Linked DNA regions of Homo sapiens: regions 1, 2 and 4 are each linked to region 3. The links come from fine-mapping of genetic effects on plasma protein levels. Region 3 holds a variant in brackets. A gene starts in each other region. All regions are shown on their reverse strands.

What was found. PIP is the chance, under the fine-mapping model, that this variant and not a neighbour inherited with it causes the effect. Protein levels are from antibody-based Olink assays in UK Biobank. Linkage for the fine-mapping came from a reference panel and not from the study's own genotypes, which makes the PIPs less certain.
Region 1: it holds the start of TSPAN8, and the variant in region 3 is fine-mapped to the plasma level of the TSPAN8 protein (UK Biobank, PIP above 0.99).
Region 2: SLC51B starts here. The variant in region 3 is fine-mapped to the plasma level of the SLC51B protein (UK Biobank, PIP above 0.99).
Region 4: S100A14 starts here. The variant in region 3 is fine-mapped to the plasma level of the S100A14 protein (UK Biobank, PIP above 0.99).

What each region holds. Positions count from the first base shown.
Region 1 is chr12:71,154,465-71,162,484 of GRCh38, reverse strand. TSPAN8 (tetraspanin 8) reads left to right here and starts at 4,486. Exons shown (of 9, transcript NM_004616.3): 1 at 4,486-4,555; 2 at 4,698-4,866. The coding sequence starts at 4,807.
Region 2 is chr15:65,040,299-65,047,907 of GRCh38, reverse strand. SLC51B (SLC51 subunit beta) reads right to left here and starts at 2,521. Exons shown (of 4, transcript NM_178859.4): 1 at 2,326-2,521. It also overlaps a transcript of RASL12 not described here.
Region 3 is chr13:103,054,392-103,062,411 of GRCh38, reverse strand. SLC10A2 (solute carrier family 10 member 2) reads left to right here. Exons shown (of 6, transcript NM_000452.3): 2 at 4,030-4,148. Among named protein-coding and RNA genes, the nearest start is that of SLC10A2, 8.0 kb to the left of the region's middle. The variant C/T (reference allele first, on the strand shown) is at 4,077.
Region 4 is chr1:153,616,067-153,620,499 of GRCh38, reverse strand. S100A14 (S100 calcium binding protein A14) reads left to right here and starts at 4,175. Exons shown (of 4, transcript NM_020672.3): 1 at 4,175-4,205. It overlaps S100A13 (S100 calcium binding protein A13), which reads left to right. Exons shown (of 3, transcript NM_001024211.2): 3 at 1,462-1,701. The coding sequence ends at 1,605. RefSeq lists a silencer at 4,006-4,055 and an enhancer at 3,736-4,236.

The sequences.
Region 1 (8,020 bases), not on the chromosome of region 3:
CTCTAATCTGCCATGGTTATAAACTGCATTTTTAATCACTGCACCATTTTGCCTCAATTTTCCTTATACACACATATTTTGGTGAGCTAAAGTCTGTTTCTTTCATACACATTTCCATATTTTTCCTTATGTGTCCTATATGGTAAATTTATGTCCAGGTGCAAGTCATTAATATTTTAGAATAAAGTATCTATAGAAGAGGAAGAATGTTGAATACTGGGTATCCATTTTCTGTAAACACTGTATTGCTACTTCACAATGACAATTCTAACCCCTACTTTAGTTCTGAGCTGGAATTAATACTCTCAAGTAGAGACAGTTGCTTTAAAATGTCCTGCAAAGAGAGGAGAGGCATCTTTCCCATACCGGATGCTTCCTATCTGGTGCATTTCCAGTGGGAATACATGAAAGGTTTTTATGAGCCAGGCTCCATAAGCACAGAGGGTAGGAAACAGAGCATTGGGATCACATGAAAGCAGAAGAAGAATATTGGTCTCAGGAAGGCTAGAATGGGACTAGAACACAAGAGCCAAGGCTCTGCTCCTGTAAAAGAGACCATAAAACCCCTAAGTGAGAACTCCAACTTTCCAAAAATAAAAAAGGTTTTTCAAAATGAGACATGCTAAAAGCACCAGAATCTCTTCACTCAAATTGTTCAGAGTGTATGATCTCATGTCCTTACATACACACCCCTCAGTACAGTCATAAGGAAGAGAAATCTCAACATTATGTTTTTATTGCTGCTGTTAGCCTTTGAGAACATGAATTGATTATTAACAACGTCATGAAAAACAAATAGTATAGAGGGACAGTGATAATGGGAGAGTATAAAAGACAAGAGAAAAAAATAATCTTTTCTCTACCACACATGAATTGCTTTTTTACTGTCTATTCCATGGACAAATATATCGGGTAACGAGATGTTGGAAACAAAAAGGCAAAGAAGTTACCTTTTCACCATGGTGTAAGGCCTAGGAAGGCAGGGATTTTTATCTTGTTTCATAAATTACTATGTTTCCAGCACTTAGTCTCATTCCTGGAATATGGTAAGGATTCAATACATCAGTTGAATAAATTTTTGAATATTATCTTATGGAGGAGAAGATGATATCATGATGAAAATATGAACTATCTATGCTTAATTTCTGGTCCAAGTCCCAAACGTAGGCCTGGTTTGCCTGATGACTTAGAGAAAATGCCATATTTTCTGTGGGGTATTTGATGGTACTACTCATGCACTTTCCTCTGCCCTGAGCATAAGGAATCTCTCTCTCTCTTTCTTTCCCCTGCATGGGTTCCCATACTGCTATCAAAATCTAGTTCACTGATGACTGCCTCATGGAGACTTTTCACAATTAATCAAATTGGAATCATTATCCTGCCTTACTCTGTGCATTTGCTGCAATGAATAGTAATTGGCATGATGGCAACATTAGAAAAACTTTATCTAAATTTACTTAGACTTTCCCTCTGTTCTTTCCCTCGATTGTCATTTCTTCTTATAATATTTCACTCTCCATTTCTTTCCTTACTGGCCCGGTCTTTCACAGGGTCTAAGATTTATTACTGACAATCTCCAACCCCTGCAACCTCCCACCACTGTTAAAATATCTGTTATATGAAAATTTCTCAATATCTAAGACACGTTAAATGAGTAATGAGTAAATGACTCATTCTCATACTACAGAACTCAAGAGATTGTTGACGCCAGTAGACAGAATACTGATCTGATAATCCTGTGACCTTGTTTCTAGAAGGAGATCTAACCAGTTTTGTGAACTTGGGCTACTCAATCTGCCTATGCTGCTCTTTTCTCAGGTGTAAGAGTGAGAGTTTGTCTAGAACAGTGCTTCTGTAAGTGCGTATGTGTGTTCTGTAACACCAGTCCTGAATATGTCATTCAAAAATATGTTCTGAGATTATATTCATTTCAGAATTGCTATATATCACCTCCTTGAATATTAGAAAGTTGAAGGCTCTGACAAGTCCTGAAATTAATAAACTGTTTTTCTTGACCTAATAGATTTTTTAAAGGCAGAGGTAGCATATTGGTAGTTCCCTAGAGAACCTAATGAGGAAATCACTAGTTGAACTTTCTGAGGAGCTTGGCTGCCATTGCAAATCTCTGTAGCTCTAATGCCAGCTACTGTAGGTACAGAGGTGAATAGGGTAAGATTTCTGCTTTTCAGGCATATAGAATCAAATGTGGGGGAGAGACACAAATAAATGTGATATAGTGGCAATTGTAGATTTAAGGTCTGTTCAAATAATAATGGACTTGAGGACTGAGAAGCAAGTAAATCTGCCCAGAGTGGGGGCAGAGGATGAGGAAGGGAAGGCTCCACAGGGATGTTGCAATAGAGAAGGTGGGAAAGGATATTCCAGGCAGAAGGAACAAGGCATAAAATCCAAAGGTGTGTTCTAGGCCTGGGAAATAATTCTGTGGTTATGGAGCCTAGAAGTGGAGGCTGCCTAGGAAGAAAGGGGAGGGACAAAATTCTGGAAAGTGGGTGGAGGACTTGTTTGCTGTGTGCTGTAAATGCTACTTTAAGGAATCTGAACTTTATCTTGTAGGTAAAAGGAAAATATCCTTAGATTGGGTTTTCATCATTATCATTACCTAATCAATAAGTATTTCTCAAAAAGAATTTTAAAGTGCTAAGGCAGAGAGGAACTGGGAGAAACTGCCAGGGAAATTAATTCTCATTCTATTGACACAGCTCAAGTAAGAAATGATAAAGGACTGAATAATGAAATGCAAAAGGATGAGATGGAAGAAATAGTTTTGACAGTAATTTAGGAGCTACACAGACCAGTAAGAGTGATTGGATGGAAAGAAAGAGAAATACAAAATATCTGTACAAATTCAGCCTGGGAGAGTGTTGTGTGATTATAACATTAATAGGAATAGGAATTTCCAGGAGTGAACTGTTTCATATAGGTTTTGAATTAGACTAGGGGTTCTATTACACAGTCATTCTCCTGTACAAACACATCCATTGATTTTTGTGTTACAGAGTTCAAGAGTGATTCAACTAAAGACTACACAGTATTCTTTTTAAGGATGTTCAGCATCCACCAAAATATCTATTTCAAACTAAAATTTGGTAGTATTCAATACATTCTTTTCAACAAAGCAGCATTTAAATCTGTAATTTTTTTTTAATTTTAGCCTCTGATAAATAATCATTTCTGGGACTATGAATCAATTTTGGTTTTCATTCAATCTGAAATTATTCTTTCAGCCTTGGATTATTCTATATACAAAATATCTCAATAGAAGGTTGTGAAACTATCCATTTTCTAGTAGGAAAGAGAACACAAACAATTTTAGTGATGATTTATATATTAAGCCATTATTTTTGGAATTAATCCTAAATTTGGCCTTTAACGCTATATATTATTGTTGATAATGCATTAAAATATATTGTATTTGTAGTCAGGGAGTAGAATTGTTTCAAAAACATTGTATGCCAGTGAAAATTAGAAATAATATTTTTCTTTTGTAAGGAGTTCATGCTTGCTTATCGTGTAAAACTTAGCAAAGATTCTAAAGAATAATTTTCTCAACAACCTTTTAAAGTAGAGGGTTCTTTTATTTAGGGGGAGAAGAACTCCCTTTGAGAGGCAGGATGTGGAAACTAACATGACCCAGGCTGTTTACACAAAGCAGTCCACACCTCCCTGATGATGTCGGAGCATTTTGCCTTTACCTGAGACAGCTGCCTTCTATTAGCACTAGAAACAAATAGTAAAATCTATGGTCACTGATCCATGACCACCTTCCCATTTTGAATTTTTTTGTCCGGGAGGACCTGGAATCCAGAAACTGAGTTGGTGGAGAACAGCTGTTGCTAGATACAATTTATCAGAGGAAGGAAATTACAGTGTCCACCTTAAAAACAAACCAAGCTATCAGAATGACTACGCATTATAAAATGAAAACAATGTTGCAGTCAGTGCCACTTTATGATTTCTTTCCCTTTGTATCATAAAGAAATAAAGATAAAAAGCAAATGGTCTTATCATGATAGGCAAGGCTGCCTCTCCCTCTGCAATTTCTGTGGTGTATTTACGGCAGCTCTGGAATTCTTTTGAAATAAATTTAGATGTTTTGGAGGGCAGATACATGTAATGGTTATTTTACTATTCTAGGTTTAATGATAACAGGTTGCTATGTCTAAGCTTTGATATTTTGCAGATTTCTAAATGCATTTTATTGCATTTAGAAGGAATTTTGTAGTATTGAGAAAATGCAATGCAAAAATGAGTAGAGATACAATGTCCATTTAACTCAGAACAAAACAACCTTATTTCCCCATAGTTGAAATGGAGGGCGGGGAAGTCAGGCAGTGGTTTCTGAAAGCCAAGAACTTAGTAGCACTGTGCCATTCTCTTGCCTGATCCAGTGCCATTCCCTTCACTTGATATCTGTTTACTTTAGAGGAGGCAGTTTTTGAGAAAGGATCATAAATATCCTGGCCCAGTGCCCCAGGAGCTATGACAAGCAAAGGAACATACTTGCCTGGAGATAGCCTTTGCGATATTTAAATGTGTGAGTTAATAGCCTTTGAGATATTTAAATGTGTGGGTTAATAGCCTTTGCGATATTTAAATGTGTGGGTTAATTTTTTTATCCAGTTTAATAACTTTTTATTCCTCCCTCTACTTCTTTGCTTTCTCTTTCTGCTCTGAAGCCGTGGATACAGAAATCTCTGCAGGCAAGTTGCTCCAGAGCATATTGCAGGACAAGCCTGTAACGAATAGTTAAATTCACGGCATCTGGATTCCTAATCCTTTTCCGAAATGGCAGGTGTGAGTGCCTGTATAAAATATTCTATGTTTACCTTCAACTTCTTGTTCTGGGTAAGTGTTTTCCTTTTAATTATCAATTTTATGCAAGAAAGGGGATCTTGATATAAATATCATAAACAAGAACAGACTGTACACTAGAGAAATAAGAGAAGGGGGAAAATGTATTTTCCATGTACTTGTTTGGATTTGTTTGTTCTTTCTTTGGTTATTTCAGTAATTGAAAATGAGCCAAGGACTCAAAAAAGTGCACTTCAGAATGTGAGGATAAACATTTCATAAATGTTTTCATATTGCTGCAAAAAAAAATCACAGAGGAACACAAATGCCCCTTAATTAAAGGACAATTTTCCTTAGTTGTATATCAAGCAGGCCTCCCTAATTTAAGGACTCTGTGGTAAAAACATGGTCTGATTCCATCCGGAGCCCGGGTCCTGATTCCCGCCCTTCACTTCTGGGTTTGAACAGGTGAATCGCAGGGTGTGGGACAATAAAGATCATTTTCAGAGCCTCAAAGACAAAAAAAATGGGTCATGAAAAACTTGAGGGGGAAATGATAAAATTCCTAAATCATAAGAAAATCAAACTAAGACCGTGGATATATATATGTATTGGCATTTTAAAGTCAGTATTTTGATGTGTCATCACCCTACCTTTTAATTGACAGGATTTGTATTTTAGCAATTTGTTATGTTTCTCTTGAAAGTCCATTGACATAGACATAACCAACAAATTGATAACTGATATCTATCAATAGATAATGGAAAAACAAGGTATGAAAAGAGCAGGCTGGGATGTTGGGACATTGACCTTATCATTTTTAGCATATATGGTACAATTAAAGATTGTTTAAATGTCAATCAGTGGAAATAGCACAAAGTATTTAAATGAAAAAAGTATTTTGTATACTGGATTAAAAGCTACCTTATCCACTCCAAGGATGAAAGAACTCTGGTTTTGTTTTTGTACCTGATCTTTAGTAAACAGACATCTCATACCTATGTGTTGCTATATTTCTGTTCTATTAAAATAATGATGAACTTAATTAAACTTAACTACATGAATACAGCTTTATTGTATAGACTGATTTTCCATTCAATGATCAGTAGTGCTAATGAGTACAAATGGATATATTGGTGACTTTTAAATAAGTAAGTAAATATTTAAAAAAGTAAAATAAAGAAGGCAAAAAAAATGGGCTGCTGTTTTTAGGTTAAAAAAATGGGCTGCTTTTGCAAATATTTAATGTAGCTCATGCTACATATATGCCAGTTTTTTAGTTAGTTCTGATACATTTCTTCCCTTGAGATACTTAAATTGATTAAACATTGGGAGCAGGTTATACAAAAAAAGAAAGACCTGTATTCTTTGGTTTTGTTTTGTTTCTAGTTTTTTTTTTGTTTGTTTTTTTTTTTTTTTTTTGGAGAACTTTGAATATTCACTAAAGAAGATAGGATAGGTAATCAACTCCATTGGCCAGCCCAGGTGGCCACAGAAAGATGGCCAATCTTTCTCCATTTTTACTGTATTCACTTCCCCCACCCCATATTATTTTGAAGCACATCTCAGATATATAATTTTGTCTGTAAGCATTTTAGTATATATCTCTGAAACATAATAATTCTTGAAAAAATGTAACCACAACCAGGCGCAGTGGCTCACGCCTGTAATCCCAGCACTTTGGGAGACCGAGATGGGTGGATCACAAGGTCAGGAGTTTGAGACCAGCCTGGCCAGCATGGTGAAACCCTGCCTCTACTAAAAATATGAAAAATTAGCCGGGCATGGTGGCACGCCCCTGTAGTCCCAGCTACTTGGGAGGCTGAGGCAGGAGAATTGCTTGAACCTGGCAGGGGGAGGTTGCAGTGAGCCGAGCTCGCACCACTGCACTCCAGCCTGGGCGACAGAGTGAGATTCCATCTCAGAAAAAAAAAAATGTTACCACAATATCATTATTACACTTTAAAAATTTAATAAGAATTTTTTAAATCAATTGTCAAATTGATTTGACAATTTTAATCAAACTGTCAAATTTGAGCCCATTCAGGGCTGAAATTTCCGATTACCTCATAAATGTTCCTGTTAGAATCAGGATCTAAATAAGGTCCACACTGTGTGGTTGGTTAATATATGTTTCATGTCTATTTTAATCTGTTGATTCTCCCTCAGTCAACATCTCTTTTTCTCCCTACTGAAATTTTATGCACTGGTGTGTGTTGTTTGTTTTATCACATTGCCCACAGTCTGGATTTTGCTGTTTGCATACCTGTGGTGCAGCCTGATACAATTCAAGGTCCTTTTTTTTTCACACGACAATCATAAGTGATTTTGTATTCTTTCATGAGGAGGCACTGGAGGTTTGATTGTGTCCCTCTTTTGTGACGTTCGTAGCCATTGATGGTCAAGTGCCAAAATCCATCATTAGTTCATTAAGTGGTTCAAAGTGATGATATTCTAGTTTCATCAACTTTTCTTTCTTTATTAGCTGGAACACTTTCTATAAGGAGAAACTTCTCATTTACTGTTTAATTACCTGGGTATCCCATTTTTAATATTTTTTAAGTGGCATAAAATACTTCTTTCTCACTCTTTACTTACCAGATTGCAAGTGATGAGTTAAGTTACTAATATTATCCAACAGTGATAAGTTAGTATTTCTTTAAGTATCCTTATGAAACAATAGATCAGCTCCATTACAATGTTTACCCTTATTAATGTGCAATTTGTTCCATCTCTGGCCATCAGGAGCTTCTTCAAGGTGACTCAAGTTCTTTTGAAATGATCCTAATAACTTTGATAGCCTCTTTAGTATTTGGTTTGACATGTTCCAGATCACTTGCTTATTTCCTGTCCAGACCTCGAATCAGCCATTTCTCCACCAAGTTCTGATATCTGTCTTTAAAGAGCTATAGTCATTGTTTTCCTTATGTAATACAGAATATATATGGCACATTTAAACAAACCAAAATATTAATATGCTAATAAATGCAAGGCTCCTATTTTATTAAAGATGTTCCAAAGCACTGAAACCAGTAGCAATCTTCAAATAATGAAACAGTTAAAATATATCTTTGTTGTATTAAAACATCCTGGAAAGTGCTAATAGCTATTATGAAGACATCAGAGGTCAGTGTTTCATTAAACAGCTAATCAGAAATTTGGAATAGATCTAAATTATCAAAATAATAGTCTAGGAAGGGGTAGGTTA
Region 2 (7,609 bases), not on the chromosome of region 3:
CGTGCCTGGCCCTTTCTTAGACTTTCAAGGACTCACATGCACACTGCCTACTTACTCATTTGAGGGAGATTCTATCTATCTATCTATCTATCTATCTATCTATCTATCTATCATCTATCGATCTATCTGTCTATCTATCTATCTGCCTACCTACCCATCTAAAATCATGGAAAGACAAAGTTACAAGAATGGCCAACAGATGTGATCTTGTGTTCTAGCTCCAACTGACTGTCCAGAGCACTGTCCAAGAAGGATTGTGACATTCCATCCAGTCTCAGATGTAAGAGTGCCTGGATTGATTAGTAACATCAGCCACAGGCCCCTGTGCCATATGCAAACCCCTGAACTCACAAAGAAAAGTATTGAAGTTGAGAAACCAAACACAGTCTTCTTCTAGGGTGTGGGATGAGATTTAGACACATGGGATATTCATGTTGACCACTCCTGTATTGTGTGGTTTCTTATGCGTATACACTGCTTTCATGAGAACAATACATGTAATTCCATTTTTAATGTGTGTATATATTTCTATGTATATTTTGTCTATTTGTATGTATGTTTTTTTTTTTTTGAGATGGAGTTTTGTTTTTGCTGCCCAGGCTGGAGTGCAATGGTGTGATCTCGGCTCACTGCAACCACCGCCTCCCAGGTTCAAGAAATTCTCTTGCCTCAGCCTCCTGAGTAGCTGGGACTACAGGCATGTGCCACCACACCTGGCTAATTTTTGTATTTTTAGTAGAGATGGGATTTCACCATGTTTGCCAGGTTGGTGATCCGCCTACCTCAGCCTCCCAAAGTGCTGGGATTACAGGTGTGAGCCACTGCACCCAGCCTTTGTATGCATTTTTAAATGTAGGTATTATTGTACTTATACCTTTTGAGACAACAATTCCAATTTTTGATATTTAATTAATGGAACTAATCAGATCAGTGTACAAAGACGCAGGTAAGCTATTGTCCACAGTGGAGTGGTGTTTTTTTGTTTTTTGTTTTTTGAGACAGAGTCTGGCTCTGTCACCCAGGCTGGAGTGCAATGGCACCATCTTGGCTCACTGCAACCTCCATCTCCCGGGCACAGGCGATCCTCTCACCTCAGCCTCCTGAGCAGCTGGTACAACAGGCATGTGCCACCACGCCCGGCTAATTTTTGTATTTTTTGTAGCGATGGGGTTTCATCATCTTGCCCAGGCCAGCCTTGAACTTCTGAGTTCAAGCGACCTGCCCACCTTGTCCTCCCAAAATGCTGGGATTACAGGCATGAGCCACCGCGCCTGGCCAAAATATGTTTAAAATATGTTTAATATTGTTACAGTAAACACATACCAACCAACAAAAAACCAAAATGACAAATTGGATACAAATCCAGAACCGAGAGTCAGCCCTCCTCAGCTATGTTAGATGCCACAGAAACAAGCGACATATTTCTTTCTTTTTTTTGAGACAGAGTTTCACTCTTTTTGCCCAGGCTGGAGTGCAATGGCATGATCTCAGCTCACTGCAACCTCCACCTCCCAGGTTCAAGTGATTCTCCTGCCTCAGCCTCCCAAGTAGCTGTGATTATAGGCATCCACCACCATGCCCAGCTAATTTTGTATTTATTTATTTAGAGACAGAGTTTCACTCTTGTTGCCCAGGCTGGAGTGTAGTGGCACCATCTCAGCTCACTGCAACCTCCGCCTCCCGAGTTCAAGTGATCCTCCTGCCTCAGCTTCCTGAGTAGCTGGGATTATAGGTGCCCGCCACCACATCCAGCTAATTTTTGTATTATTAGTAGAGACAGCATTTCACCACATTGGCCAGGCTGGTCTCGGAACTCCTGACCTGAGGTGATCCATCTGCCTCGGCCTCCCAAAGTGCTGGGATTACAGGCATGAGCCACCGCACCCGGCCAATTTTGTATTTTTAGTAGAGATGGGGTTTCACCACGTTAGCCGGGGTGGTCTCGAACTCCTGACCTCAGGTGATCGGCCTGCCTCGGCCTCCAAAAGTGCTGGAATTACAGGCGTGAGCCACTGCGCCCGGCCAAAGACATATTTCTATCAAAGCACGTATCCAGTTTGCTTCTAAAGTGAGCATCATATTGTCATTTGCATGATTAAATTAAACTTTATGCCTTATTTGCATTTTGTTAGTTTTGCCTTTAATGTTCTTTTCTTGTTCCAGGATCCCATTTAGGATGTCATACTGCATTTAGTTGTCTTGTCTCCTTAAGCCCCTCTGGGAGATCTCTGCATTTTAAACAGGGCTTAACCATCGTGCCATTGGACTGTGACTTCTGCCAAAGACCTGGGCCACCCATCCCCAAGGCAAGATGAGGACACTCACCCCGGATCCTGAGTTCCTGACGACTGCCTTGATCTGCTGTTGGGAGCAGCACCGATTTCTGTATCTTCCTTTTCCTCCTCTTTATGGGAGAACAGGATAGTCTTTGCACTTGAGCTCTCCCAGGCAGTAACAGCTGTCACTTAGGGGACAGTGCCTGGAGAGCCTGCGGCAGCTGGACCCATCTGGTAGCTCTGGCCTTAGCACACGCCCAGGCCTGGAGCCTTCTGTATCACTCCAGGGTGACTGACCTCTTGAATGAGTGCACTCAGAGTGCAAACAGGCTCCACCTGACTTTCACAATCCGAAAGCACCAGTAGCCCAGTGCTTTCATTGTTATGTGTTGGCCTCAAGTAAAGAGAAAACATCCGGATCCTCTGGACAGGCAGGAGAATGGACTGCAGAGGACCTGCGGTCTGTGGGTTCCATCACTGCAGGGGGATATGTAGTGTGCCCACTCCAGGTCTCTATTGCCCAATATCATCAATATTTAACCACGGAGCAGGGAGCCAGGCTGGCCTTTTACAGCCTGTGCTTTCTCATAGTGAAGGTCATGGCATGATGTGAATTCCTCACAAGGAGCTGTAAAATATGACCTTTGGAGGTGGGGGTTGGGAAAGGCTGTGTGAGCACCAGTGACCCAGAGAGTAGGAAGCAGGCCAAGGCAAGTAACTTGATGGGGAAGCAGGAATGAGGTGCTCCTCCCACCTGACCAGCACCATTCAACTCTGATAGTCTATGGACTTTTCCACCAACTGGCTCCGTGCATCTTAGGCAATCATTGTTGGTTTAGCAAGGAGTGGGCTTATGTGAAATAAGCCCACTCCTTTTTTTTTTTTTTTTTTTTTTTTGAGATGGAGTCTCGCTGTGTCACCCAGGCTGGAGAGCAGTGGCACAATCTTGGCTCACTGCAACCTCCACCTCCCCGGTTCAAGCAATTCTCCTGCCTCAGCCTCCTGAGTAGCTGGGACTACAAGTATGTGCCATCATGCCCGGCTAATTTTTTCTATTTTTAGTAGAGATGGTGTTTCACCGTGTTAGCCAGGATAGTCTTGATCTCCTGACCTCGTGATCTGCCCACCTCAGACTCCCAAAGTGCTGGGATTACAGGCATGAGCCACCACGCCCAGCCGCCCACTCTTATTTCTTACTTCACAAATGAAACAGAGGCTGAGTGAGGTCACATGTCAAGCCCAAACTCCTCTATGAGTTAAACATTAGTCAACAGTGTGTACTGTGTGTGCATGGGGCAGAGGAAAGAAGACCCAACAGGGAATCTAGGGGCTGCCTGGAACTCCAGCTCCTCCTCATTTTGTAATGCATTCATTTATTCATTGAATAAATGTTACTTGAGCATCTACTGTGTAGATACATGGTAAATAAGACAGGTGAGGGCCCTGCTCCATTGGAGCTCAAACTCCAGGGGAGATAGCCAACAAAAAAGTAAGCAAAAGCATAATTAAAAGATAATTATAGCAGTGATCATTTCTGTGAATATCTTAAACAACATAATAAGATAGAAAGGGATGAGGTGGGGGAGACATGATTACTATATTACTACACTAAAAACTGAATGATGAGGGGTTAACCATGCAAAGACCTGAAAAAGCAGGTACAAAGGCCAGGCGTGGTGGCTCATGCCTGTAATCCCAGCACTTTGGGAGGCCAAGGCAGGTGTATCACCTGAGGTCAGGAGTTCGAGACCAGCCTGACCAACAAGGTGAAACTCCGTCTCTACTAAAAATAAAAAAATTAGCCAGGTGTGGTGGCAGGCGCCTGTAGTCCCAGCTACTCAGGAGGCTGAGACAGGAGAACTGCTTGAACCCGGGAGGCGGAGGTTGCAGTGAGCTGAGATCGCACCACTGCACTCCAGCCTGGGCAACAGAGCAAGACTTCATCTCAGAAAAAAAAAGAAAAGAAAAGAAAGCAAGCAGGTACAAAGACACTGAAGAAATAATGAGCTTAATGTGTCTGGAACAAAAAGGTGGCCAATATAGCTGAATCATAGTGATGAGGGGGAAGTGGCATGGAATAAAGTCAGAGGACAGACAGGAGTATCCACTCCTCATGGTGGGCCTTGTAAAACAGGGTAAGGAGTTTGTATTTTACCCTAAAAGTGATGAGAAGCCACTGGAGGGTTTAGGCAGGAAAGTGACATAATCTAATTGACATTTGTCTAAGATCACTTGGCCTGCTGGGTGGAAAATGGATTGTAGGAGAGCAAGAGAGGAACAGGGAGACCATTGGGAGGCTGTTATATTCATCCAGGCAAAACATATTAGTAGTTTGGACCAGGCTGGTGGCAGTGGAGATGATGAGAAGTGGTCAGATTCAGGGTGCATTTTGGAGAGAAAGGTAGTTGATAGATTTCAAGAGAGAAGCTCAACACTAACTCTCTTAAACACAAAAGGAATTTATTGGCTCATAAACTAGGAAGGGCAGGGTGGAGCTGACCTGAGGCATACGGGAACCAGGGATTTGACGACCCGTAGTGCTTTGTTTCTGTGGCTCTTTCCCTGCTTTTCTCTGGGTGCCAGGCTCATTACCCCAGGCTGGCCACCTCCGGGAAGCTTGACCAGATGATAGGAAACCCAGGCTCATGCTCTCATAGCTGCAGAGGAAGTAGCTACTTTTCTTAGCTCTTGTTTAAAAATTCTTGGAAAGGACTCTAATTGTCCAGCCTGAGTCATGTACCTATGTCTTGGATCAATTGTTATGGCTAGGGAGGGGGGTACCACTGATAGCCAACTCAGAGCTCATCATGCCTGTTGGGTAGCCAGGAGAGACAGGCTGTGAGCTGGACAGCCCATGCCATGTGGGTGCCTGAAGGAACCATTTGACCTCAATCCCCCTTGTCTGCCTCTGAGGAGTGTTGTGGTGCTCTAATGGGATGGTGTCCCCTTAACAAGGAGCCTGCACAATCCCAGGTTTTCCACTCTTCTGCTTCTGTGTCTTTTCTCTCCCTCCTCTTACCCTAGCTCTTTCTACTACGGCCTATCCAATAACTTGTTCCATGGTTGCCATGTGCCAGGCATTATGCCAGTGATAAACAGTCGAAAGGATTGTCCCTGCCCTCATGGAGACTCCAGTCTAGCAGAACAGACAGACGGGTGTTCATCATGTCATCACAACTTCTGTGTGACAAGTGCCATGAAGGAAACGTACACATGGAGATGAGAGCACATCACCAAGCCCTCCTTTCCTCACAGCATCACTATCATTCCTGGCCAATCAATCCCACCTTGAAATCTCCTCTCCTGACTTCTCCAGTCTCTTATCTCCCTACCTAGAGGATGATAGACAGTCAGCAGTGTAGTGGAGTGGAAAGGGCTTTTGGTTTTCCTCTGCTATTCTGGTATCTGCCACCTGCTAACCCTTCAAGCCTCAGCTTAAATGTCATCTTCTTAGGGAGGCCTTCCATATCAGTTGAGAATTGTGTTTGGCTCTGGGTAACAAAGACCCAATGTCAGTGGTTTAAACCATAAGAGTTTATTTTCTCATAGAAGAATGTCAGAAGTAGCCAGTTATTAATGTCGTAAGACCAAGGAAATCAGGGCTGAGGTTTCTAAGACTCCCTCATGGCCCCTAGATGGCTGATGCAGCTCCTGCCATTATATCCAAGTTCCAAGCAGAAAAAAAAGCAAAAGGGAAGAAGGACAAAAAGGTGTGACCATGCTCTATAGTAAACGAATAACCTATCTGAGAGTAAACTCAGATAATACAGAGAACTAAGGTCAAGGGAGTTATTCCCAGAAAACAGTAGCAAGGGCAGCCAGGTGGGCTAACCAAAGAACTTACTCTACTGCCAGGGTGGAGGTCTTCACAGCTCATGCCCAGCAGGATTTGATAACTGTCATGGGCCTGTGCTGCTGTGTGGACTGTAGCACAGCCTGCTAATTTCCCCCTAGATTACATTCTTCCCTTCTTCCTTTTAATAAGAGAATCCTCTAAATTTTAGAGGCATATGGCCACCCAACTGGAAACTGCAGTTCCCAGGCCAGGCGTGGTGGTTCATGCCTATAATCCCAGCACTTTGGGAGGCCGAGGTGGTCGGATCACGAGGTCAGGAGTTCAAGACCAGCCTGGCCAACATGGTGATACCCCATCTCTCCTAAAAATACAAATTAGCCAGGCATGGTGGCGTGCACCTGTAATCCCAGCTACTCAGGAGGCTGAGGCAGGAGAATCGCTTGAACCTGGGAGGTGGCGTGAGCTGAGATCACGCCATTGTACTCCAGCCTGGGTGACAGAGCAAGACTCCATCTTAAAATAAATAAATAAATTAATTAATTAAAAAAATTAATGAACCTGCATTTCCCAGATTCCCTGCAGTCATAAGTGGTCCTCTAAGTTTTGGCCGAAAGAGACCTGAGAAGTGATTGCAACTTCAGAATCACTATTTTTTTTTTTTTGAAATTTATACAAACTTTTTTTTGTTGGAGTATACATATAGGAAAGTACACAAATGGTAAGCTTAGTGAATTTTCACATGTGGACACACTCATGCATGGGAACATATGCCATCCAGATCAACAAATAAAACAATTGCACCATTGCATCCTGTACTCCAGCCTAAGCAACAGAGTAAGACCCTGTCTCTAAAAGAAAAAAAGAAAAAGAAATAGAACATTTCCAGATCTCAGAAGTCTTCTCTTGTCACTATCCCTTACAAAGGCAACCTGACTTTTAATACCATAGATTAATTTTGTCTGTTTTTATACTTTATATAAATGTAATCAATCAATATGCAATCTTTTGTGTCAGCTTCTTTTGCTCTACATTATACTTGTGAGATTCATCCGCGTTGTGTGTAGTTGTGGTTCATTCATTCTTGTTGTAGCGTAGTATTCTATTGTGTGACTATGCTGCACTATTTCTACCTGTGGATCATGTTTTTGTGAGAAAATTCAACCCCTCCACTTCCTCATTCCTCTTTCTGGAACACAGATATGATGGTGGAAAGGACATGTCAGGACAGGGGTTGTTAACCTATGGGCCAGATCTTTCTCTTTTTTTGAGATGGAGTGTCGCTCTGTTGCCAGGCTGGAGTGCAGTGGGGAGATCTTGGCTCACTGCAATCTCTGCCTCCCGGGTTCAATCGAGTCTCCTTCCTCAGCCTCCCAAGTGGTTGGGACTACAGGCACGTACCACCACGCCCAGCTAATTTTTGTATTTTTAGTAGAGATGGGGTTTCACCATGTTGGTCAGGATGTTCTCAATCTCTTGACCTCATGATCCGCCCGCCTTGGCCTCCCAAAATGCTGGGATTACAGGCGTGAGCCACCGC
Region 3 (8,020 bases):
TCTAAAGTTAGTACTATTATTTTCTGCATTTGGCAGATAATGAAGTTAAGATTCATAACCTTGACCAAGGTCATTGAGTCAATGTATGCCTGAGTCAGAATTGGAATCACCCAGGTCTACCCACTACCACTTTGCAGGCTCATAAGCTTTCTCTACACTGCTTCTATCACTTTTCACTTCTCCAGTTTCTAGCACTGCCTATATACGCTACGTTAGAGCCTTCAAACTTGGTATTTTACTTCTAATATGATTACAATCTTTTACATTGCTTAACACTGATTTCACTGAATTCCTCAACATTCACTAAATTTACATTTATTCTTTCTTTTATTTCCATACACACAAAAGAAAATCTCCCTGGCAGTTAATAGAGCTGAAGTCAAAATTAAGACCAAGATTTTTTTTTTATTTTTCTTATACTTGACTCTTTTCTGTCAGTCTAATATAAATTCAAGGCAGTGTATGTATTTTTTATATACATGCCTTTTATAGAACTTCAGATTTTTTCGTGTAAGATAATATTTTCTTTTGCTAATTTAGGCTTCTATATTATTTCTTAAAATTCGTTATCTGTGAATTGTTTTAAATCTCATTTTGAGTGGTTTGATTTTGTTCTTATATTCATTCAAATAGCATCAACTTCCAGCTACCTATTCGTCTGTTCATCTGCAAGGTCTCTTCGTCAGTGCTGCTCACAAGTCTAAACCTTTCCTTCTCCAAACCCTCTTTTGTCCCTCATCACGATCCTTAAGAAACTGCTCTCACCAAACTCAAAATTATGATACAACGTCATAGATTGTCTTAGCAATATTCAGAATTAAAGGTTTTGCAAGGATCTTTGAAAAAAAAACAAAGACAGAAAAAGACTTCCTTCTTAAACATTTTCTCACATTTTAAAACAAAAATTCTCAGACTTCTCTTCACTGGAACCCAGTTAATAAATCCTCCTCACTTCCCCACCAGATTCCCACCACACTCTAGAAAAAAATATTGGATGCACAGAAAAAAAAGTGATTTTATTATAGGGACAACTTTAAATCCATTCTAATATATTTTTTAAAATAAAATAAAAAAAAAGAGAACACTGAAAGAAGAGAGGAAGGAACAGAGAAAAAAATTACCTTCAAACTCCAGTACTTTCATTATAAGTAGGACAAAGTACTATTAATAACAAATTAACTTGTTTGTCTGGTGTACAATTCTGCCTTAGCATCTATTTCATGCCTAAATTTACCTATAACCAGAATAGATTGAACTGCTTAAAGTTTTAAATACATCCACATTATTTGTTACTGTTGTAATATTTTAGCTCTACTAAAACAAGTATTTTTATCTAAATTATTTAAGCCTATTTTAAATGAGGTCATTCTGGTTAAAAATAAATATATTATTAGAGAAGTTAAGCTCTCTGATGAACTTTGTCCCACCCTGTATTTTGCCAAACTGTGCAAATTTAACTGTGCCTTGAAACAAAATTTCTCATTGTTAGCTCCTTTCTTAGTATAGTGTGTTGTTGTTGTTGTTGTTTTGGGGGGCAGGTAATATAAATATTTAACATTTTCTTTCAAGTACACCCATAATACCCTTAAGAAATTACTACTCTTGACAACCTCAATGACGACCTGTTGAGAGAAGGGCCTTTCAGAGAAATTTCTCATTTCTCTAAGTTTCCCGATTCTATTTGGTGGAACACAAGATACAAAAACATGGTAACATAAATGATCACAGCAGAGAGATGCAGGGTGCGGTGGCTCCCGCCTGTAATCCCAGCACTTTGGAAGGCCTAGGCGAGCGGATCACCTGAGCCCAGGAGTTTGAGACCAGCCTGGACAACATGGTGAAACCCCATCTCTACAAAAAATTTAAAAATTAGCCTGGCATGGTGGCTCATGCCTGTATTCCCAGCTACTCGGGAGGCTGAGGTGCAAAGATCACTTGAGCCCAGGCTTCAGTGAGCCAAGTTGGTGACCCTGTACTCTGGCCTGGGTGACAGAGAGAGACCCTATTTAAAAAAAAAAAAAAAAAAAAAATGGTAGTAGCAACCAGCTCTTAATAGAGTGCTTTGCATTGGTCTAAGTGCCGGACACCATTGGCTCATTCTATCCTTACAGCCATTTTAGATAAGGAAACTGGTAAAGAGAAGTCAACTAAATTACTCAAATTAACACACTAAGTGGCACCGCCTGCTTTCAGCCCAGACAGTGTGTGGCTTTAGAGCTCAGGCTTTAAAGGCAGAGAATGTACGCTGTGTACAGATCCCTTTGAAGAGGACCCGGAAGACTCACTCCCCAAAAATCTTTCTTTGACCCACTGTCCTAGTACTAGAGATAGCATCATTTGGCATTAATGTCTCCATGTAGATAGCCTACTCAGCCAGACCCTCTTATTAAAATGCAAACACTCTGAGCAGGGATGATACCAGACACTAGTTCTTCTGAACACACATTTGCCAAATTGCCAATAACTTACTCAGTGCTAAGAATTTATGTCTACCCTGCCGCTTGCATGCTTTCTTTTGATTTTTAAGTCAGCTTCCGCTTCTTGTCCCAAGCTAGGGTCACTTGGGCAGTAATTTTTCTGCTTTATGGCAACACAGCGAGGCCTCCTCCCTCGGACATGCATTCTATTCCAGGGGCCCAGGGAGGCCCATTCCATCTCAGCATGGTCAGACACATGCAGCCTTGGTGGTGTCAGCTGCTTTAAATGTGTTTGCTGTTCTTTGATTGAATGTTTGAAGGATGGCACACCCAGCGAACCTTATACATTATTTAATGATGACTTTAACCCATCGTTTAATACTGTTTCTGACCCTTAAGAATAAAAGGGGAGGGAAGGACGGCACAAGGCAAAGTGGAAAGACACCAAATATGGCCCATTTTGCTCAAGGCCAGGCCCTGAATACACTCAGGCACATAGGCACATGTATATTACTGTTCATCACACCAGACGATGCTACAGGTTGAGACAGATTCTTGCAGGACTTTCTTATCATGAATCGAAAATAAAAATTTTCTCCCATTCGGGAGGTTGTTTGTCTACTCTGCTTATAGTTTCCTTTGCTGTGCAGAAGCTCTTTAGTTTAATTAGATTCCAAGAAAACAATGAACAAACCCATTAAAAAGTGGGCAAATGACATGAACGGATGCTTCTCAAAAGAAGTCACACATGCAGCCAACAATCATATGAAAAAAAGTTCAACATCACTGATCATTAGAGAAATGCAAATCAAAACCACAATGAAATGCCATATCACATCAGTCAGAATGGCTATTATTAAAAAGGCAAAAATTAACAGATGCTGGCGAGGTTACAGAGAAAAAGGAATACTTATCTTCTGTTGGTGGGAGTGTAAATTAGTTCATCCATTGCGGAAAGCAGTGTGGCAATTCCTCAAAGACCTAAAAACAGAAATACACTCAACCCATCAATCCCATTACTGGGTATATACCCAAAAGAATACAAATCGTTCTATTATAAAGACACATGCACACATATGTCCACCGCAGCACTATTTACAATGGCATACATATGGAATCAACCTAATTGCCCATCAATGATAGACTGGATAAAGAAAATGTGGTACATACACACCATGGAATACTATGCAGCCATAAAAATGGACTAGATCAAGTCTTTTGCAGGAACATGGATGGAGCTGGAGGCCATTATCCTTAGCAAAGTAACACAAGGACAGAAAACCAAATACTGCATGTTCTCACTTATAAGTGGGAGCTAAATGATGAGAACGCATGGACACATAGAGGGGAACACAGACACTGGGGCCTATTAGAGGGTGGAGGGTGGGAGGAAAGAGAGGATCAGGAAACATAACTAATGGGTACTAGGCTTAATACCTAGGCAATGAAATAATCTGTACAACAAACCCCCATGACACAAGTTGACCTATATAACAAACATGCACATATACCCCTAAACTTAAAATAAAAGTTAAATTAAAAAATAAAAATAAAACAGCATCTTCCCTAGAACACCACAGGTGGATGTATCAATCTGCCCATTGCCTTTCAGCGTCAGCATGACCACATGCTCCACACTGCTTGCCCTCGGAATGATGC[C/T]GCTGTGCCTCCTTATCTATACCAAAATGTGGGTCGACTCTGGGAGCATCGTAATTCCCTATGATAACATAGGTAAGTCATCCATCTGTAAGACTGTTGACTGTTACCCTCAAACTCTCTGCTTACCCCCTGCTAGGCTCTCAGACCAGGCTCACACCTGACCGTTATTGCCCTAGTAGGAGTTTTTGCCTGATTTCATTATAAAGTCACCCCTGCGTTTGGAGAGTGATGGCAGAATGTAAATTCCAAACCTTGACCTTATGGGAGAACCTGTCTTTTCTTCAATTTGAATCACCAGGGAAAGGAGCCCCCTCCCCAGCCCTCAGTCTGGACTGAGGAGGCTTAAGCTTTGGGGACATGGGAGCTTGCACCTATTCCTTAACCCAGAGTGTCACTAGTTAATGGTCATAGGATTTTGCATCCAGACACTTGAATTGAAGAAATTTTTTTTTTTTTTGAGATGGAGTCTCACTCTGCCACCCAGCCTGGAGTGCAGGGGCGTGATCTCGGCTCACTGCAAATTTCACCCCCTGGGTTCAAGCAATTCTCCTGCCTCAGCCTCCCTAGTAGCTGGAATTACAAGCATGCACTACCACGCCTGGCTAATTTTTGTATTTTTAATAGGGACGGGGTTTCTCCATGTTGGTCAGGCTGGTCTCAAACTCCTGACCTCAAGTGATCTGCCGGCCTCAGCCTCCCAAAGTGGGATAACATGCATGAGCCACCACGCCCAGCCTGAAGAAATTTTTTAAAATCACATAATGGTTTCAAAATAGAGCACTGAGTAAGCAATCCAGAGTGTTACAACAGAAAACTGCTAGACGAAACACACTGTTTCTAACACTCGACTGTGAGCCACACCTTGACCCAAAAGTTGATTTAATGGCAAAGTCATGCTCCAGGAGTCAAATTTACTAGTAATGACTCTGTCTCATTTCACCCTCATCCCAAAAACCTTATTTTCTGTTTCTGGGGAAACAAATTATAGTGGGAGATTAAGTTATTGTTGTAACTTAGGGATGAGGGTCAAAGGAAGAACAAGAGAGTTCCTGGTATACCAGGAATAGGCATTTCCCACAGAACTATCACGAACAAAAGACAAGATGTGGGCAAAATAGTAAATCAGTAACAATCACCAGGTACACTATATGCCCCAAATACCTGGGTTTTTTTCCCCACTGACCTTGGAAAAAAATCCCAATGAGCTGCCTCAGAAAGGTGTGGGTTTCCCATTGAAGAAAGCATCCAAGCAAAGGCTAAATGATAAGCCACCTGGATGCTTGTAAAAGGGACTCCTATTGGGATAGGAAGCTGGGCTGAAATGCCTTCCATTTCTGAGAAAGACTGCTTCTGTGATTTAGGGTGATTGAGGGAATATACAACTGAATTAGAATAAACTTTGTGAATACTAATTGGGGATGATCTGTATTACAATGTTTGTAGCCTCTTCTCTCTCTCCTACTCTTACCATTACCATTAGACCAAAAAAAAAATTGTCCTCCTTGACATGCCCTATTCAGTATGGGCTTTTGATATACAAGATTCTTCAGACTCCAGGAGAGAACCTTAATATCATATATAACCTCCTGACAAGAGACTTTAGGGTGACCCTCCACTACCACCTGCTTTTGCCTTCATGCTGCTTGACTCTCTGGCTGCTCTGTCAGCGGACGCCTTCCATAGAGCTAAAAACCATAGTTTACGTGAGTGGTGACCATTATATCCCTCTCAAAGAACCTGTCTGCTGAGTGAGGAATTTTGATTCCACAATACTCACTGTAATAATTTAATAATTTAAGCCATAAAATATTCTCCTTTTGATATACATTCCCTTCTGAGAAATGACTCATGGAAATACTGAATAATTCTAACTGCAGTGTGAATGACTTATACCATATTCTGTGATGTGAATAAATTTTGAAATAAGGAGAAAATGAAAAATCAATTAGCACTTCAATGGAGGAAAAGGTCATCATAAGAGGTCAAGAGTGAAAAGAAAAGAAAAATAGGAAAAGAGAAAAGAAAACGGAAAAAGAGAGAAGTTTGAAAAACAAAGATATTGTTATATGTAAAATATTTATTCAGAAACAGAATACTTGTTCCTCAGTACCACAAGGAAAAATGAGCATTCAGACAAAAAGTTTTCTCAGCAAGGCAATTTTACTTTCTGCAGAAAGAGTGCTCCTCACAGATGGCACAATGGTGACAGCACACCTGAACAATGGAGGGAAGTAATTCGTATCCCTTATGCAGCTTGTCCCTGCTACTGTGTCCTGTCTCCATTGGCTGGAGCCAGACATCACAATCTAAGCTAAAACCTGACTGGCTAATAATTTAAAACTTTTCTAAATAGGTATAGGCAATAGACAACAAAGGAAAAGAGGACGTTGCTTGTGAAAGGACTTAGAAAAGTAATAATATTTCCAAATAAGGAAGGGGCATAGGCTGCAAGCTGGAATGTACCTGTGAGCATGTTCAGCATAAATATCTTGGTTAAAGTACAAGGACATAGAATGTACTTATTCCTTTATATCTAACAGCTACATAGAATAGGGCTTAACAAAGAGTTACTAGCACAAAGTAAGGGGGCTTGAAGAAAGTTAGTCTTTAAAAGAAATTATTATTTCTAATGTTTATTATTATTATTATTTTCCTTTAACAACAAGGGACACTTTGAAGAGGAAACTTTTTACTTTCTACAGATATTAACCCTGCTCACCATGTTTGCCCAGGCCTCCAAGCTCACCTTTTTGCTGTTGGTTTTTCTAGTTCTTTAACATAGAAAATAAATGAACTGACTGCTTCACAAGATGTTATCACTGCTTTCTAAATTGTGGCTCAGGGTGATTATTTGCCCAAGGTCACCAGGAAGCTGGAATAGCCCACAGTCTATTCTCTACACAGCTCTATGGGCAGACGTGTTTGGTACAACTTCATGCTCCAGTGATTCAGTAAACACCTGTGAGCCCCCTCAGATGCTGACATCTGGATCGAGAGGAGGCAGACCATGCAGCTGGTACCACTAAAATAAAACCACTGCTGCAAATTGTTGTACTTACTCCTCTCTACCCCACATTTTTAAGTGTCTTGTGCCAAGAAGTTTATAGCCATTTCATCATTTAATTCTCACAACAGCACTGTAAGGCAGACATAACTCCACCCATTTTACAAATGAGGAAACAAAAGCTCAGAGGGGTTCAATGATTTGCACAGTTCCCACAGTTTGGGAATACAGAAAGGTTCAGTTCCAAATCTATCTGGCTCCCAGTCCCACCACATGAATCCATTCACCACCACTCTCTTTCATTCTCATTCTTCTTTCTACCTTTCTTTCCTCTGATATCTACTGTGTAAACTTGATTAAAGACCAAGTTATGGATTCAATGTGTAACCATGAGTGGATGCTTTTTCATCTACATAGACAGGCACTTTACAGAGAGAACATGGGCATATGAGGCATACGTAAAACAAACAGAGCATGGGGAAAGAAAAGAGCAAGATCACCAGCCCACTGGAGACCAAAGTTACAACATCCACCTCTACAAGCAGAAGCCACACACTGTGGGTGTAAAGAAAGACAGAGTCCCTTTCCCAGTCAACCCCAGGTCCCTGAAAAACTTCATCTGGCCTCATCTGGTCAGGAAAGAAAAGCAATTCTGCCATGGATTTCAGCAGGTGGTGCTGCTTATGTGTTATCCCGTTGGCTTGGGCTGCCTCAAAAAGATGAATACTCTTAGCAGGAGGGGCCAAACAGATTCAGCACATTAAAATATAGGACCAAAACCTAACCACACTAACATTCCAAGCACAGGACTTGCAGCTAGATTTAAGCTACCACATCACAAACAAGTCATATATCCAGATGGTTTTAAGACCTACAAACTTCAAAAACTTAGGCAATGGTCTAAAGACCCAGGAGAGGGAGTTTCCTTCTTGTATTCATC
Region 4 (4,433 bases), not on the chromosome of region 3:
CTTTGTTTTGTTTCTGTCACAGCTCTTTTTTTTTTTTTTTTTAGATAGTCTCACTCTGTCACCCAGGCTGGAGGGCAGTGGCTTGATCTCGGCTCACTACAGCCTCTGCCTCCCACACTCAAGCGATTCTTCTGATTCAGCCTCCCAAGTAGTTGGGACTACGGGTGTGCACTATCACACCGAGCTAATTTTTGTATTTTTTTTTCTTTTTTTGAGACAGAGTCCCACTCTGTAGCCCAGACTGGAGTGCAATGGCGCGATCTCTGCTCACCACAACCTCCGCCTCCCAGGTTCAAGCAATTCTCCTGTCTCAGCCTACCGAGTAGCTGGGATTACAGGCTCCCACCACCATATCTGGCTAATTTTTGTATTTTTAGTAGAGGCAGGGTTTCACCATGTTGGCCAGGCTGGTCTCAAACTCCTGACCTCAAGTGATCCGCCCACCTCAGCCTCCCAAAGCGTTGAGATTACAGGCGTGAGCCACCGCACCCTTCCTGCTTCTTCTTTCTTAATACTTATTTATTTCTCTTTACTGATTGAATGCACCCCCAATATAATGTTACAGTAGCCATCCTTGCCTTCCACTGGCAGTGCTTATAGTATTTTATAATTAAACGTGGTTGTAACTTAAAAAAAAGTCTTTTTTAGTTCTTCTGTGAATCAGCTTTGTTCCCTTTAGAGATTCAGTGAGTCTTCTCTGTCTGCATCCAAATGTTGGTTCAAACCTTGAGCCTCACACCCTGCCTGAGGCACCCTTCTCTGGTTTGATGTTGAACTATTGTTCAACAGTCAACTTTTTGGTTGTGCTTGTTTATCTGGCAACAGGTCCTTCGATCAGGACATCCAGTTTACTGTTGCCATTGATTTCACAGGCCTATGAGAGATACCCTGTCAAGGGCCCCTAAAAACCCAGATACTCCATGCCCTTGCCATTCCCCTGATCTAGTGACCCAGCTGGATAAATGAAAAGACACAAGGGTTGTGCAAATGAGCAGCTAAGTACTGGGAGCTTCTCCAGCTTTCTGAGAAAGAGGAGGGTGGCCCCAGAAGGCTCTGACTGGGTCCAACCCTGCAGCATCTCCCTGAGATGCTGGCATTCCTTGGGCCGATCCCACAGCAGCTGCAGTGGTGTGCTGGTGAGAGAAGATTGTGTGGATTTCTTTCCAGCTTTGTATTCAGCGACAACCTGTTTGTGGTTTGTAAGCAGCCATCGTGGAAGTATTTACACAACGGCAAGCACTAGGACTCAGGCCCCCCCACCTTTCTCTGCTGGTGCTCCTTGGAGAGGCACCCCGTGGCGGTGCAGTTTTGGGGCTGCAGCCTCCTTCTTTAGAGAAGGGGCAGGTGCCACTGCTCTCTGAGGGAAGGGCCTTGAGAGAATAGCAGCTGACAGTTCTTCCCTCCCTACTTTCTCAAGAACCCCAGTTTCTAACTCTACCCTTCCCTTTGGTGTCTCCTCAGGATGTGGGCTCTCTTGATGAGAAGATGAAGAGCTTGGATGTGAATCAGGACTCGGAGCTCAAGTTCAATGAGTACTGGAGATTGATTGGGGAGCTGGCCAAGGAAATCAGGAAGAAGAAAGACCTGAAGATCAGGAAGAAGTAAAGCCGCCTGGCTGAGATGGGGTGGGCAGGGCAGAGCTGATCAGGGCCGAGCAGAACCGCACTCTTCCCAAATAAAGCTTCCTCCTTGAAACACAAATGTTTCTTACTTACACCCCATCCTGATTTCTTTTCTTGAGACCAGAGAGTGGGAAAGCTCTCTCTTGACCTGAGGATGGATCTGAAAATTATGAGCCCCTTGAGGACAGGGAATGTTATTCATCTTTGAATTCCGCAGCATCTAGCACCAGGTCTTGTACAGAGCAGGTGCCCAATAAATGGTTGAATGAATATATGAAAAGTAGAGGCAGAGGGCTGGGCACAGTGGCTCACGCCTGTAATCCTAGCACTTTGGGAGGCTGAGGTGGGTGGATCACTTGAGGTCAGGAGTTCGAGACCAGCTTGGCCAACATGGCTAAACCTCATCTCTATTAAAAATACAAAAATTAGCTGGGCTGGTGCCTGTAATCCCAGCTACTCAGGAGGCTGAGGCAGGAGAATCACTTGAACCCAGGAGGAGGAGTTTGCAGTGAGCCGAGATCGCACCATTGCACTCCAGCCTGGGCGATAGGAGCAAAACTCCATCTCAAAAACAAAAAACAAAACAAAACAAAAAGAAAAAAGAAAAGTAGGGGCAGAGATGTGGGGCAGGAGAGGTGACTCGGGCTCAGCTGCATGGTCCTGCTCTGCTTCTTTTTTCTTGGAGTTTGTCCGTTGGATGACAATGATAGTGGTGAACAGGTATGGAGGGCTTACTAAGTACCAGGTGCAGTGCTAAACATTTTGCCTGTATTGTCTTAGTTAATTCTCACAGTCCTTTGAGGAAGGCACTATTTTTAACTCCTGTATTAAAGATCAGGACACAGATCTTAGTTAAAGTCATAAAGACAAGAATAGGTGGATTTCAGAGCTCTGATTAACCAGGATCCTCTCTGGCTGGGTGCTCAGGAACACTAGGGCCTCCTCCCCTTACCCTCTGGAGCAGTGGGGAAGCCAGAAGGAGGGGCCCGATGTTCTGCTCAAGGACCGTGGGGTGAGGGTGTGGTGGTGCCACCGGAGGCAGAACTTGCCTTGCCTTCCTGGCTTGAGGGGCATATGGTGTACACGGCCACCACCAGAGGGAGCAGGGGCGGGCATCTCGGTGACCAGCCTCCCAGGGCTGTCACTGCCTCACTGGCAGGCATCCATGCAGGGCAGCTATGAGTCCAGAGGAACCTTTAGGCTGAGGGAGCTCCCTGACCCTCCGTTAGAGAGCCCCAGACTGAGACCTCAGAGAGACTCCCAGACTGGGAATCCAAAGGGCCATTGGCAGAGACATTCAAGAGGGGCTCCTGCACTGAAGGGCTCCCTTACCGTGAGAAGCCCTGTGAGGAACCCCCTAGCCTGAGCCTCCTCCTGAGGAACCCAGGCTAAGTCACTCTCAGAGGAACCCACAGGCTGAGAGACCCTCAGAGGGACCTGCAGGTTGAAGCCCTTCAGAGGAACTCTCAGAATGAGACATTGTTGGAAGGTCCTCTCCATTGAGACACACAGGGCCCCAGGTTGAGAAGGTGACATGAGGAGGGATGTAGTGGGGTGTGCTCTGATCTCAGCGTTTAGGAAAGGATCCTGGGAACTTTGGCTCTGGGCCGCACCCCATCCTTGCCCTGACTCATGCCTACTGCTCTGCCCTTCTTCCTACCCCCTCCCAGTGACTTCAGGTTCTAGGTGTCTGGGCCTGGGCAGGTGAGGAGGGCCACTGGGGTTGGGCTCTCTGGGATGTCATTCTGGGTCCTGGATGGGGGGCTGTTGCTCTGCAGCTGGGTTAGGGAAGGCATGGGGCTCTGAGGGAGGGAGAGAGAAACACGTGGCCCGACCAGTTTGGAGTTGGTGTTAGCTGCCAAGCAGCTCAAGTGGGCCTTGCATTTGTGCACTCTGGGCCGCTGAGGGGAGCTGAAGGGAGGTCAGGCAAACACTCACTCAATCTGCCTCCCTCCATCAGGCTGCCCTTCTCTGGCTTCCTCCTGATCCAAGTTCTCTACATTCATCTCTCTGCCTCCAGGACTGGTAAAGGCTGGGCTCTGGGATCCAGGCAGGCTTGAGTGTCAGTATCCAAGCTGGGCCTGACTGGGAGAAGTGTGCGTGTGCGTGTGTGTGTGTGTGTGTGTGCACGTGAGAGAGAGAGAGAGACAGACAGACACACATGGAGGGTACAGAGGCTCCTGCTTCTCCTTCCTGGTCACAGATTCAGACCCCCTCTCCTTCCCTGCCCTGCAGTTCGCCAGGGCCCTTCCACTTCCTAGGGTGACCCCATGAGGTCTCGAAGTCCTCTCTGTCTCCCCAGCCTTCTCGCTTCTCTTTCTCTGTGACTCTGCATGCTGATCGGAGGCCAGGGGTTTCCCAGCCCCAGCCCTCTGTGGCTCCCTCCTCGTGGCAGGGTCATGGTAGGCTCTGGAACTCTGGCCAGCGGAGGGTGGGGCCCATAAAGCTGGCTCATAGCCCAGGCTGCTGCAATAGCAGGGGTGGCTTAGGCCCAGCCCCCTGCCTCCCCTCCCTTCCCCCAGGTATAAGAGCTGAGCTCAGGTGAGCTGGCTCCTCCTGTCTTGTCTCAGCGGCTGCCAACAGGTAAGGAAACCCAAGGCTTTTCACCCAAATATACTGCCTGCTGTCCAGAGGGCACACTTAGGGTAAGAGCTGGGGGATCAGATCCTGGAGGTTGGTGTGTGTGTTTCAAGCAGAGGTGGGTGGTTGGAGGAGGTGGAAAGAATTAAGCTAAGGTGAGTTCCAAGGGATTCCCCCTAGATGCGTTGGCCTGGGGGATATGACCTTGGCTCCTGAAGCCCAGGCGGGGCC